Regions from separate parts of the Homo sapiens genome. Here region 1 is linked to region 2. A link means that fine-mapping ties the variant in region 2 to the expression of a gene that starts in the linked region. Tissue or cell type: whole blood. Region 2 holds a variant in brackets; the other region holds the start of a gene. Each region is shown on its reference strand, or each on the opposite one.

Region 1 (4,402 bases), not on the chromosome of region 2:
TCTCTGTTTTTCTGTAAAATAGGGATAACCATGTCTGATTTACAGGATTGTTGGAAAGATAAAATACAGTGTGTAAAGTGCACAGCACTACTTTATGCATAACATCCTCAATAAATATATTAGTTCCCTTTCCCTTGTGATGCTACCATACCCAAATAGCCATTGTGATGTTTCCTTTTCATGCACTTCAGCTTTTCTTTTTCTAAGTAGTTCTCTGTTTCTCAAACTCCAGGTTCCAATGACTTCTGTAATAAAATGAAAGTGATTAGAAAAAGTGATGAACTGTGGTGTCTATCAGCAAAAGTCCTGTAGCCAAGTGGCAGAGTCTCTGTTCTAGGTTTTTCTCCTAGCTTTTTGAGGACAAGGACTGCATCTCATTTATCCTTGTATCTCCAGAGAAAGCCTGGAAGCAGACATTCAGCAAATGTTTTTGAATGAAAAGGTCAGAGACCTACTCCTACATAGTATTTGTACATAAGTGTGCTACCAACCTATTAATTTCTTCAAAGTAATTTTATATATTGTACAAATAATGAAAAAAGTAGCCATATTTTGCTGTCTTTAACATGATAACTTGTTTTCATTTTATTCCTCACTTCTATCCAGTCTTTATATTACACAAAGTTGTAAGAATAGCATACCACAATTTTAATCTTTTTATTAAGCTAGCGTTATATTAGAACTATTTTCCATGACGTAGTCTTCATAATGATAATTTTAATGACAATGTGATACATAGTCTAGTTGATGTACTCTCATTTACCCAATCATTCCTCTTGGATTGAGCATTTAGATTGTTGCTAGTTATCTTTGCCTTGTATATCAAATTATAATAAGCATATTCATTGCATATAGCTTTTCTTTGGTATTTTTTCCTTAGAACGGTGTTTTTTCAAGTTCTTTGGAAAATTAAGGGTTTGATCAAAAAAGTTTCTGCTGCTGTCTAAGGTTGAGAAAAATTGATGAGTCTTTGATGCAGAGCTTCCTAGAGCCTGTGAAGTGATACAAATCCACACTGGGACCTCTAAAGAATAGAGCATGCCCCTTGAACCATGGTGCCTCTTGTTCTTGGGATAAGGGTTCTTAATAGGAAAAATTATATCTTTATTTTTACCAACCTCTAATTAAAATTGACAGTTCCTTCAATTATGAATGTAGATAACAAACCACAGTAGTTTTGGCAGTATATGACTTTTTTTTCAACTTTTATTTTAAGTTCAGGGGTTCATGTGCAGGATATGCAGGTTTGTTACATAGGTATACATGTGCCATGGTGGTTTGCTGTGCAGATCATCCCATCACCTAGGTATTAAGCCCAGCATCTATTATCTATTCTTCCTGATGCTCTCCCTCCCCCTCAGCATATGACTTGGTCCCTATAAAGAAATCACATATTTTTTTATCACATTATAGTTGTTGCAGATACCTTAAAATATCACCTACTGGCTATGACTTATTTGACTTGATACTATTATTAGACCCACCACTGGATATTGTAATCTATAAATAATCATATATATTACTATATAATAATTTTTTATTTTGATATTTGTATCTTAATGTAATTATTCCCTTTCTAGTCTTATATATTTAATTTTATGCCTTTAAAAATTTTATTCAAAGAAGGAGTCTCTGGGTTCATCAGAATGCCAAAGAGATCCATGTAGCAAAAAAAATTTAAAACAATGTCTTAAGGTATCTCAAGGCCTAAGTTTCCACAAAACATTTTGAGAAATGTTGCTTTAGGATAGATCCAAGGACTGAGATTAGTGAGTCAAAAGAATAAGCAGTATTATAGCTCTCACCACTTATTGCCAGATCTCTTTCCAAACGTTAGACCAAATTTGTGCTGCCATAGAAATGTATGAATCCACTTGTTTTACCACAGCCATCGAATGAAATTATTGGATGAACTAGTCTCATTAGCTTTCATTTATTTCCTTTTTTTTTTTTTTTGGCCAGATCCATTGAAAAGAGAAAATTATCATACCCCGAATTCTTCTCAACAGCCACCAGCTCTTAAGGTATTTTTCATTACCTGGAGAATGGTTCTCTTCTTGATGAGGGTCAGGTGTCTGATGGTGCTTCAAATGAGATTGGTCCTTTCCCAAATCCATCTTGCTGCAATACCTTCCTGCTATTTTGGTCTGACTTCCACAAGCAGCCTAGATGCTTTTTTAAAATATCAAAAACATCTAACACTTAAAAAAAAAAACCACACACACAAGTTTGCCTGTCACTTGACTTCCCGCCTAAAAGTTTTATCTGGTTGGACCACAACTGCAGGCTAATTCTACTATCTTTATCACACTGCACAGGTGTGAGTAGGGGAAATGGCTGGTGCTAGCAACCCCTAGCATAGGTTGCTATTTATACAGGGAAACTCTCTGACCACAGCCTGGCATGGCACAGCCTCTAGTCAGCACTCTTTTGGTTCTATCTGCCAGGAAGTGTCTGGATCCGATGTTCCTTTTTACAGATGGAGGTAGCCTAGTGTAGAAAGAACACAATCTAGGCCCCAACCAGCTCAGTGGCCCAGGGCAAGTCACCTCCCTTTTCTATGACTCTCTGCATTTGCAAAATGGGTAAATAATTCCTGTCTTGCCTACTTCATACGGTTCTTGTGAAAGTGAAAATAATAGATATAAAAGTTTCTAGAAAGTGTGATATATATTAATCTTACATGGTTTCCTGTATGTAGCTTTTTTCACCTTAATCTGTTGCAAAATAATGTACAGTTTTGCTGTGTATGCTGTTAGACTTAGTTAAGAAATAGACATAAAGAACCAAATTAGAATTTCACAGCAATTTTGTACCCTTTTTGGCTCACCAAATCATTCGCAAGTGACTCAAGATAACTAGTGAAATCCATTGTTACTCATATAGGGGAAGGTGAAAAATTACTTCTTAATGAAAATATCACCACATTATATCCCAGAAATTAAGTTGAAATAATCAAAGGAACCATCCTATCTCCAAGCAGTAACCCCATTTGTGAAGACAAGGAGCCACAGACTACTATGGTTCAACTAAAGAAGAAACCCTGAGCACCTCCTGATACAGGAAGCCAGTCTGGGAGATGCAGGATTAATATATGTGTTCTGGATTCAGATTGAATTGAAGTGAGTTTGAATTCCAGTGTTGACATTCCCTAATTCAGTGACCTGAGGCAGGTTAGATAGCCTTGGAGTCAATTTACCTATCTATAACATGGGGACAATATTGGTATCTACCTCAGAAAGTTACTGGGATGATTAAGTCCAGTAATCCATATGAGGCATTTTATGTGTGCCTAGCATATTGAACTTGGTCAGTAAATGTTAGCTACCAATAAAAATACAGTAACCAGATTTTGGTAAAGCAAGTCATAGTTTAAATGCACTAAAGAGAGAATCTGAAGAGGATTCTTTATAAAGAAAGACCTTTGTAATGTGAATAGATACCCACTACTTCCATGGAGTCTTAAGGCATTAGAACTGGAAGAGCCCAAAATCATCTAGTCCCTGCCTATTTTGTATACAAAGAAACTGAGAACCGAGGAGGAGAGTTACCTATACTTAGTATTTTATTACTTATTGCCAGCAGCATCTCTTACAGATTAGGAGATGGGTCATCATTTTGTGTGCTTGATCTTTCCTGGGTATAAAAATGTGTGTATCATGTAAATATATTAGAGAAACAAGCTGTCAAACACACTAAAGGGTATCGAGAATGATATAACAAACACCCAAGTATCTGCCACTAAAATTTAACTTGGTTTTTAATTACTAAACCCTAATATTTAGCTTTACCTCTCTCAGTTCCCCAGTCCTTCTCTTAAGTAAATCTCTGTATCTAAAAGTTCAGGTAACTTCAGGGAGCCCCTGCTCAAAGGAATCCTGCACGGAACAGCAGGCATTATTTGCTTGAAAATTTTGGATTTTCAGATATGGGGTTTAAATAACTCAAACTAACTTTAAAAATTACAAAATAGTGTTTTTTTAAATATTGGTCCCTTTAGTTGATATGTTTTAATTCTTATTAGTTAGGTTGTTTCTTACATTAGGATAGTTTAATAAAATAACATTATAGAATCCCTCTGGGACACCTTCAGTGGATGCAGAGGTACTTCTTGAATAAAATTGTCCTTACTAAGAGCTTGTAACACCCAGTTCAACAATTCAGCAAATTTTACTTAATGCCCCCTCTTGTGCTGTAGAGACGGATGGTGCAGTTCCTGAGCCCTGTGCCCTGTAGGCTCATAGAGGAGAAAGTGTGTACATCTGTATTGCAAGGAAATAATAGATTCTTTATATCCTGCTACAACCTACCTAAGTCAATTCCACCCCTGCCCCATGTTCCCTGTATCTAGAAGCAGAGTGTGGAGGGACTGTAAGAGGGTGGGGTTTCAAGTTAACAGTAA
Region 2 (4,393 bases):
CAGTCTCTGCCTTCACTGTCACATGGCCTTCTCCATGTATGCATGTATGTGTTCAAATATCTTTTTATAAGGACATTAGCCACTGAATTAGGGCCCACACTAATAACCTCATTTTAACCTAATTACCTCTATAAAGACCCCACTTCCAAATTAAAGTCACATTCTGAGGTACTGAAACCTACCTTTTTGGGGGAAACAATTCAGCCCCTAACACCTCCCCAGCACTTCACACCCCACCTCACATTCCACTGCTGATTGAGCTGAACCTTCACTTCCCAGGTCTCACACATCCATCCCTTTTCCCTTGCCAGTGGTGTGGTGGCCCAACCACACCAAAATAAAAAACTGCCTAGGCCAGGTGAGGCCAGATCCCATGACTCCATCCAAGACAGCCCAGTGGCCAAGGAGGTTGCACAGGGTCTCCCCCACTCCCCACTGGAAGACAGCAGGGGCAGGGTCCAGATGGTATAATCAGTGGGTACACCTGGAGGACGTGCAACAACCACGTGACCCACTGGCATTTTAGAATGTCAACTCCAGCATCAGGGATGGTAGAGAGACGATCACAGCAGGAAGACTAGTCAGGAAACAGGTACGGCGGTCAGAGGCAAGGAGAGAGAAAGGGTCCGAGCTGGGGACGCTATGGTGAGGATGGAGAGGTGGTGGCAGAGGGAATGACATGGCTGGGACTGCGGAACAGGGTGCAAGGGTGGGCAACTGAGCCAAGCGTGGAGCAGAGTGCTGAAGACAACGAGCCCACAGAAGAATCAGCCCCCAGGGGAAACGAGAGCTCTTTAGACGCGCTGAGAGTGAGGGAGCAAATCTTGGTAGATACTGAAGTCTGGAGCTCAGGAGAGAGGCAGGGGCTGGAGACCAGTTTTGAGAGTCCTGAGTGGATTAGATCACCTTGGGAAAGCAAGAGGCAGCAGGAATGGAGGCTCAGTGAAGTGCAGTCATGGGCCAAACCCTGGAAAAGACAATGTTTTAAAGAGAGCTGGGGCACAGATGTGAGAAAAAGGAGGTCCAGAAGGGTCCAAGAAGCAGGAGGAGAACCAGGAGAGAAGGGTGGTTCCTGAGACCAGGACGGTTCAGGAAGACCAACAGCACGCACTCCTTCGGGGCCCCCCTGCTGCTCTCTCTTGCTGGACTTTGCTTAATGTGAGCAAACTGTCACAAATAAGCTGATTGAGCTCCCATCAAAAGAAAACTGCAAGCATGCCTCTCTCATCTTTTAACTGTTTATTGTATAATATAAAACTACAAAAGTAAGACTGCTCATTTCCATGTACATTTAATCTGTCCAATTGTTTAGATTACAGCCCAAACCTACATGTGAATACAGCCATCTGGGTTCCGATGTAACGTCTGTAATATTGCATAGAAAAGGCACAGCTCTCAGGTCTGTGGGGGAAAGGTTATACCTCCTTTTTGACAAAAGCCCTCCTCAAAAACCATGCACCAAACATGTCACTATGTACATCTTTTTTCAAAATCTCGGTCATGCGCACATATGGCCTGCATTTCTCTTCCAAAACTTGTTATCCCCAAAAGAAGTCCAACTTTTTATTGGCTTTGTCTGCAATAGCATTTGATCCTGGCTAATTTTCAAGAACCATTCAGACTCATTCTTAGAAACACTGAAAACAATTGTACATAAGCAGGATGCACACAACTCCATGCCTCCAGGTGCGGGGCAGTTACAGGAAGGTAACCATTTACAGCCAGAAAAGGTTAAATATACTCTTTTCATTGTTTTCAGAAAATGTATAAAGGTCCAATTTGTAACAGCAAGGTTTTCAAATTAAGACAATTCGTATAGAGTAGCAATTGCTGCACGAAGTAGAGTCTTTTTTTTTTTTTTTTTTACATTTGTCATTTAAGAAGGCTGCCCTGCGGTATTCATAATTCATTGTTTACCACAAAGGTGGTTCATAAATTTAAGCTTTAAAAACGATCTGTAAGTTGATACTTTGGCTCTTTGGAGCTTATTTCATTAAGAAATTTTCCTTGATTGACCTCAGGGCAGCTGGGGCACTCCAAGGGGCTATGGCGATAAAAAGCTCAATTGGTAAAGACACTCGAGAGGTGCAGAGGAGGCTCTGGCCACTGCTCACCCTTTGGTATGAACAAGGGTGCCCATGTGGTTGCTCCTTCTGTCATCCAGAGAAAGTGCTACTAAAAAAACTTTAAAAAATATCAACCCTTTGATGCTTTTCTTAAAAATTTGGAGGTATTAAAACATTCCTCATACCTTTTGCATATTTCAAATAGACCCATATTAGAGAAGAGTAAAAATGAATGCGGACTGTGCATACAATGAGAAGACCTGGGGGCCTGGCTTGGACCCCCTTTTAATACAGATTTACATTCCTACAAGAGAATACATTCCTACCATACATTCTGCACATGTTACGATCCAGATGTTAGCGCTCCACAGTAAAATAAATATATTTACACAGAAAAAAGGAATAAATAACTTATGGGGGGAAAAAAACTCA[CTTCAAA/C]TTCAAAGCTCTTACGATTCTGCTCTCATCTTGTCACTTCATTGCACATCAGTGTCAATAACTGTCCTCTCCCAGCCCCAGCTCGGTTTTCTCGTAAAGGCACCTCAAGCTGCCTGCCTGGCCCTGGATGCCATGTGATGTCTTTCATAAAGGGAAGGCACTGCTGGAAGCACATCCCACACTCAAACTGGGACTTGGAGATCCCACTCCAGCTCCTACTGTTCCCTGTTGGGACATCACTTTGTAAGAATAGGATGCAAAAGCAATTAGAACCCTAGATCATTTTGATCTTTCTGAAAATGGGCTGCTAATTTTCCATGTCTTTCTTGTTAGACTTTGAGTATCAGGGATTTATGGCAACGGTGTCAGAGTTAAAAAGCATTTGCCTGCTGTTTTTGGGGTTTTTGTTTTGATTTTGAAGCCCAGCCTTACAAATACATAAGAGTCAGAGAACCAAGTTTGGGCAACACTTCTCCGTGCTTATTTGAACTGTTGCCCAACATATGGGATTTGTTTAAACACATGATTTGCTAATCCAACAAAAGTACAGTTGTTGTAAGTTACTGTAAATCAGTTTTTAACAATGGCAAACCAACTGTTTTACCCTGTTATTGTTCAGAATCATCAATACTATTGTATATGTGTACGTAGGTAGATGTGTGCAGCATGCGGCAGGTTTGCCAGGTCCTCCAGTTATAGAAAGCATGGAATCTGGGCAGACTTGTTCTCTGCAAGAAAGGGAAGCTCTTAAAATTAACAGGCATACTGACACTGGAAGCATCTACTACAACCCTCACCTCAGTTACATGGTCCCTGGTCCTATTAAAGGAAATGACACACCTGTAGCAGTACGAGGTGTCTGCGTGGAGGTTGCTTGTAGGAGAACAAGTGCAATTTGATCAGTTTCTCACTGCTCTACTGAGCTGATAATTAGCCTTTAAAACACATTCAAGTGGGGGGAAAAAGTAAATTAGAATGTAGAAAGCCTTTATCATATCATACTCAAATCTTTTGCTTAGATGAGCAGTTCCTTCATCACAAACGTCTTTGCTTTGCCATGTGCATTACAAAAATAAAACTAACTATGGCTTGCTTAAAGTGCCATTTTATAAAGTTGTCTTTTTTAATTAGCCAGAAAGACCCAATTTTATCCATGGCAAGAAGTGAGCAGAATTGGTGACTGAATATTGACAAATGACCAACAACAAAGACAACAACAACAACAAAACATCCCATAATTTAAAAATTTTTAAATAAATATAAAAGTTATTCCTAAAGAAGCCATCTGCATAACAATATAGGTTGTAACCTGCACTCAACAGCTAAAGTACCATTGGAAGAAAAGAAAAAACTGAAACAAGAAGGCCATAAACAGTTTCGGCAACAAGCATGATACATTGCAACCTTTTTAAAATTAAATGTACACCACTAGGAATAAAAAGCTACTTCTCAAGTGTGTCCTGGGAGATAAGGTGATGGGGGGGGGAATTGGGGGGAGGAGGGAAAACATGCATAGAAAGTCCTGTCTGAGTTTTGGGGTAAAACAGCCTTGACAAGTGTGAAGTAGCTGACTCAGGAAAGCAACCAGATGGGAAGCTGTGACGTAATGTGATGAACTCCAGGTTCAAGAGTCACACATGTTGTAAGAGTGCATCCCGGGCCGGCCGAGGCGAGCCAAGCTCACTGTGGTGATCACGAAGATGCCATTTTCAGCTCTTAGCAACACAGGGAAAGCTCTAGGGAAAGGAAGCTGCAGAAGACAATTAAGCAACATGATGGATGCCTTCTGGGGAGATTTTCTTCTTTAAGGGCCCTAAGCATTGCAACAGGGCTGAGTTCCATGAAGAAGTTGGTTGCTTTTCGGATGTAAAATTTTGTTCGGATGTAAA

What was found. PIP is the estimated chance that this variant, and not a neighbour inherited with it, causes the effect.
Region 1: HEMGN starts here. The variant in region 2 is the best candidate, but not a certain one, in a credible set for the expression of HEMGN in whole blood (TOPMed, PIP 0.61).

What each region holds. Positions count from the first base shown.
Region 1 is chr9:97,936,020-97,940,421 of GRCh38, forward strand. It overlaps HEMGN (hemogen), which reads right to left and starts at 2,153. Exons shown (of 4, transcript NM_197978.3): 1 at 2,039-2,153; 2 at 152-245. The coding sequence starts at 2,117.
Region 2 is chr2:64,630,397-64,634,789 of GRCh38, forward strand. It overlaps SERTAD2 (SERTA domain containing 2), which reads right to left. Exons shown (of 2, transcript NM_014755.3): 2 at 1,225-4,393. Among named protein-coding and RNA genes, the nearest start is that of SERTAD2-AS1, 4.3 kb to the right of the region's middle. The variant CTTCAAA/C (reference allele first, on the strand shown) is at 2,499.